Regions from separate parts of the Homo sapiens genome. Here region 2 is linked to region 1. The links come from fine-mapping of genetic effects on gene expression. A gene starts in region 1. The other region holds a variant in brackets. All regions are shown on one strand. Distances are between the middles of the regions. Region 1 holds the start of ABHD8 (abhydrolase domain containing 8). Region 2 has its middle 8.0 kb from the start of GTPBP3.

Region 1 (3,011 bases):
GATAGCGCCAATGCACTGCAGCCTGGGCAACGGAGTGAGATCCTTTCTCAAAAAAAAAAGGAGTCGTCTTCTCTCAACCGCTGTCCATTCTTCTGGCCCGACTGCTTTCCCTTGACTCTCCCCCAAGTTCAAGGGCTCCTCAAGGGCCAGGGGCCTGGGGCTGTATCCCTACAAGTGCCAGCTTGGGGTTCATGCAGAGAGGTGTTTGCTAAATGAATAAACTGTATAGTCTCCCAGAAGTGCCCTTAGTGGGCAAGAGTAGGTGTCTGGACGGAATCCAGCTCTGGCAGCAAATTCCAGGGGATGTGAGTGGCCAAGCAGCAAGGAGCATTTAACCCCTCGTCCTCCGAAGCCCATCCTACCTGTAGCATCGTTTAGCAAAACATCACCACTATAATAATGCCCATAATATATGGAGCATTTGTTATATGCACGACACTATGATGAGTGCTTTACCTGCGTAGCAAACTTATGAGAGGATTAATTTCATAGAGAAATAAACGGAGGCTCAGGAAAGTGAAGTAACTTGCCCGAGGTCACACATCAGCAAAGGGCAGAGGCTGGATTTGAGACCTGAGCTCTCCTGAGGGCCTACCATGGCCCCGCCGGTACCACAGAGCTGGGATGCCTGCCTCTTGCTATCAGCCCTTCTCAGAACCATGGCAGCCATGGGTTAAATCGGCTGATTATGAAATTCAAACTCTCTAATTACCCACAGCTCCAAGACTTTCCTTGAAAGCTTTAGAGAAGCCCGTCACGATGGCTCACGCCAGTGATCTCAGCCCTTTGGGAGGCCGTAGACGAGAGGATTGCTTGATGCCCAGAGTTCGAGACCAGTCTGGGCAAGATAGCGAGACCTCGTCCCTACCAAAAGAAAAGGGGGGGGCGTAGGGGGGAGGTTAGCAAATAATGGTTCCCAGGGTTTGGAATCACACAGCCTTGGGTTCAAGTCCCAGCTTTGCTCCTTGCTTGATTTATGCTCTTGTGCCCTTTATGAGCCTCAGTTTCCCCACCGGAGATTGGAAAAAGATCTTGGAGTCTCTGCTTCTAGAATGGAAAGGTCAATACAGAGAGAAGAGTATGGGGGCCTCGTTTGGAGAGGAACAGGGCAATTGGGAGGCAGGGGCTGGGGGGCAAGGGCTTGGGAGACCCATTTGCAGAGAGAGGGCCCCGGCCGCACACTCCCAGGCGTCCCGCAGACCCTAGACTGCAACCCCCTTCTCCGCCTTGAGCCAGGCCCCATCCCTCCCCCAACCTCGGTGAACCCCCAAAAGGGGCGGGGCCGTTGCTCCCAGAGCCCGCCTCCACTACGGAATTGCCGCCTCTCATTGGGCTCCTAACTAGGCCAGGTCAGTCCGCAGCTGCGATAGGCCGAAGTGCCCGCCCGTCGGCACGTGGCTCCGCCTACTCGGGGGAGGAACTTAAAGGGCCGGCTGTTTCGGCGGCCGCGGGATGCCCCTGCGCTGACCGCCAGGGGCAGGTGCCCGCCCGCGTAGACGCACCCGGCCTGACCCCGCGCCACCATGTAAACGGCGCCAGCAGGCGGACGCTGGCTTCTCCGCCTGGGACCCCTCCGCCCCGACCCGGGCCCCGCGGCCCTCGATGAGGTGAGCGGGGAACGGGCCCCAAAAGGAGAGATCGAAGCCCCGGGGCCTCCACTTCGGAGGAGTGGTGTCCACCAACCCCGCGTTTGGGCTCGTAGGAAGCCACGGAGCCCCAGTGGGCTCGACCCCGCTGCAGGGATGACGAACACCTGGAAGGCGGGGGCCGGGGGCGGGGAAGCGGGGCTGGGGTGGCGCCTGTGCGTTGCCCTCCACAATCCGGGATTAGGGCCCCACTCGAGGTGGGGGGCATGGCCTGCTTCCCCTCCAGTATGTCTGGGGCCACTGCGGCTCAGTCTCGGGCGTGCGTTACCTTAGCGGCGCCCAACCTGGGGTAGGGGGCAGGCAGGCAGCTGGTCCCATCTCCAGGCCCTAGACACCTCGACAATGGGGGTGCACTGCTCGGGTATCCCCCCCTTAGGTTATGTAACCGCCTGTGGTTGCCATGGACACGGGGGCGGGGGTGGCCCAAGGAGTGGGATGGAGGCTTGGAGGCCCCCAGCCAGGGCCCTGCCTCTCCCATCCTCTTCGCCACCTCTGGGGACTTGTATAGCAGATCCCCAGAATCCAGGGTGCCAAGGAGGAAGTTCAGAGTCTAGCTTCCTCTCAGAGTGTCTGGGCCTCAGCTTGGCCCTCTATGAAACAGACCCCGGCTCACCCCGGTCTAGGGGAGCTGAGCAAGGCTTTCTGTGGCTCAGTCCCCATCCCCCTCTCCTAGGGCCTCACCTTTCAGGAGTCAAATTCAGAGCCAGGAGCCTCACTGGGGGCTCACCAAAGATTTGCATATTTTAGATGCCTTAGGAGGCCCTGGGGATATGTGAGTTAGTGAGTGCATACCTGGATGAGTTAGTGAGTTAGTGTATACCTGAATGAATGAGTTAGTGTATACCTGAATGGATGAGTTAGTGTATACCTGAATGAATGAGTTAGGAGGCCATAAATGGTATAAACTCCAGCTGGGGGGAGGGGGTGTCTTCCGGCTGGTCCACATTTGCCACAATGTCCCCTTCTCCAGGAACATCCCCACACAAGACGCCACCACCTTCCCTGTGGACACCCTGTGGGGTAAGCCATAGCCAAGTCTTTCTCTCTGAGGATAGACTAGGGTGACCCAGGAGGGTAACTACCACAAAGGCACTGCTCAGACAAAACATGTCAGTGCACGGTGGCTCACACCTATAATCCCAGCACTTTGGGAGGCCGAAGCAGGAGGAAAATTTGAGGTCAGGAGTTCAAGACCAGCCTGGCCAACATGGTGAAACCCCATCTCTACAAAAAATACAAAAATTAGCTAGACATGGTGGCACCTGCCTATAATCCCAGCTACTCAGGAGGCTGAGGCAAGAGAATCGCTTGAACCCAGGAGGGGGAGGTTGCAGTAAGCCGAAATCCGGCCACTGCCCTCCAGCC
Region 2 (2,500 bases), 42 kb before region 1:
ATTTTTGTATTTTTAGTAGAGACGGGGTTTCACTACGTTGGCCAGGCTGGTCTCCTGACCTCAGGTGATCCACCCACCTTGGCCTCCCAAAGTGCTGGGATTACAGGCGTGAGCCACCGCGCCCGGCCCTGAGGTCTCCTTCAGTTGGGTGGTCAGAAACTCTGCGGGCCTCCTTAGGCCCTTTTCGTGCCCTCTCTCTGCCGCGGATGCCTCCCAGGCTCTGTGTCCACTGAAATCAGAGTTTGTATATTCAACCACTGGAGGTGGAGATCTTTTTCTGATTCCAGAAAAGATCCTGATTCTCTTCGAGACTCAGTTTCCACCCCAGTCAGGGGAAGTTAACCATTCACATGCCACCAGGTGAATGCGGAAGGCCTAGATCCGCTGAGGGTGGGGCACCGGGAGCGCTGATGGGAGGATTGCTGGGGACCGCCTCACTTAGCGCGACGCGCCCTCTGCTGGTCGGTCCCCGCCACGTCAGGCTCCCCGAAGAATCTCAGACGAACCTCTGCCTATCAGACCCCTCCATCCATCCCTTCTCCAATGGTCTCCCTCCTCTTTCTCCTCCTTTCCTCTGCTCCAGCCACTCTGACCACCTCTGGCCGGGCGCGGTGGCTCTCGCCTGTAATCCCAACACTTTGGGAGGCTGAGGCGGACAGATCACTTGAGGTCAGGAGTTTGAGACCAACCTGGGCAACATAGCAAGATCCTGTCTCCATGAAAAAAATTTAAAAATTAGCCGGGCATGGTGGTTGTGGTCCTAGCTATTCAGGAGGCCGAGGTGGAAGGATCAACTGAGCCCAGGAGGTTGAAGATTACAGTGAGCCATGATTGTACCACTGCATTCCAGCCTGGGTGACAGAGTGAGACCCCACCCCAACCCCCCCCCAAAAAAAGGGCCAGGCATAGTAGCTCACACCTGTAATCCCAGCACCTTGGGAAGCCAAGGCAGGAAGATTGCCTGAGCCCAAAAGCTTAAAACCAGCTTGGGCAACATAGTGAGAACCCATCTCTAAAAGAAATTTAAAAATTAGCTGGGCGTGGTGGCGCATGCCTGTAGTCCTAGCTATTCAGGAGGCTGAGGTGGGAGGATCACTTGAGCCCAGAAGATGGAAGCTACAGTGAGCCATGATCGAGCCACTGCAGTCCAGCCTGGGTGAAAGGGAGAGGCCTTGTCAAAAAAAAAAAAAAAAAAAAAAAAGGTCGGGCGTGGTGGCACATGCCTGTAATCCCAGCTACTTGGGAGGCTGAGGCAGGAGAATTGCTTGAACCTGGAAGGCGGAGGTTGCAGTGAGCCACAATCACGCCACCGCACTCCAGCCTGGGCGACAGAGCAAGACCCTGTCTCAAAAAAAAAAAAAAAAAAAAAGCAAACAAACCAACAAAAAAACCTGACCATCTCACTATTCCT[T/C]GAACACACCGCGAAGTTCCTGAATCAGTGGGATATGTAATCCAGTGAAATATGTGTCAGTGGGATATGCATATGAAGGGATTTGCATATTCAGTGCCCTCTGCCTGGGGTGCCCTCCCCAGACTCCTCCATCTGACATCCTCACCATTCAGATCTCAACACTCATCACCTCTGCCAGGCAGCCCACTTTAAGTTGCCTGACTAGGTCACTTCTCCTCTTTATGAGCTTCAAAGAAGCCATCAGGCCAGGCACGGTGGCTCACACATGTGATCCCAGCACTTTGGGAGGCTGAGGTCTCAGGATCACCAGAGGCCAAGAGTTTGAGACCAGCCTGGGCAACACAGCAAGACCCCCATCTTTACTTAAAGAAAAAAAAAAAAAAGGCTGGGCACGGTGGCTCACGCCTGTAATCCCAGGCATTTGAGACCAGCCTGGCCAACATGGTGAAACCCGTCTCTACTAAAAATACAAAAATTAGCCAGGCGTGGTGGCACACGCCTATAGTCCCAGCTACTCGGGAGGCTGAGGCAGGAGAGTCGCTTGAACCTGGGAGGCAGAGGTTGCCAGTGAGCTGAGATCATGCCACTCCACCCTGGGCAAAAGAGCAAAGACTCTATCTCAAAAAAAAAAAGAGCAGCCATCAGGCCTCACTGTAATGACCTCTTTCTTGTCTCTTCTTTTCGTTGTTGTTTCGAGACAGAGTCTCGCTCTATCGCCCAGGCTGGAGTGCAGTGGCGTGATCTCTGCTCACTGCAACCTCTGCCTCCCAGGTTCAAGCAACTCTCTTGTCTCACCCTCCTGAGTTACTGGGACCACAGACGTGTGCCACCATGCTTGGCTAATGTTTGTATTTTTTGTAGAGATGGGGTTTCACCACGTTGGCCAGGCTGGTCTCAAACTCCAGGCCTCAAGTGATCTGCCCACCTTGGCTTCCAAAATTGTTGGGATTACAGGCGTGAGCCACCACGCCTGGCCTCTTGTCACTTCTTTAATGTGAACAGGGACCAAGCCTGTTGCTCCCCTCTGTGACCCCAACATCCTGCCTGCTGCACAGGAGGCCCTCAGCAAACTCAGATTTGGAGTCAAAC

What was found. PIP is the estimated chance that this variant, and not a neighbour inherited with it, causes the effect. A credible set is the group of variants that fine-mapping cannot tell apart.
Region 2: its variant is the best candidate, but not a certain one, in a credible set for the expression of ABHD8 in lymphoblastoid cells (GTEx, PIP 0.64).

Annotation. Positions count from the first base shown.
Region 1 is chr19:17,301,838-17,304,848 of GRCh38, reverse strand. ABHD8 (abhydrolase domain containing 8) reads left to right here and starts at 1,424. Exons shown (of 5, transcript NM_024527.5): 1 at 1,424-1,607. It also overlaps a transcript of MRPL34 not described here. RefSeq lists silencers at 1,302-1,851, 2,235-2,529 and an enhancer at 2,887-3,011.
Region 2 is chr19:17,344,326-17,346,825 of GRCh38, reverse strand. No RefSeq gene overlaps it. Among named protein-coding and RNA genes, the nearest start is that of GTPBP3, 8.0 kb to the right of the region's middle. RefSeq lists an enhancer at 1-735. The variant T/C (reference allele first, on the strand shown) is at 1,412.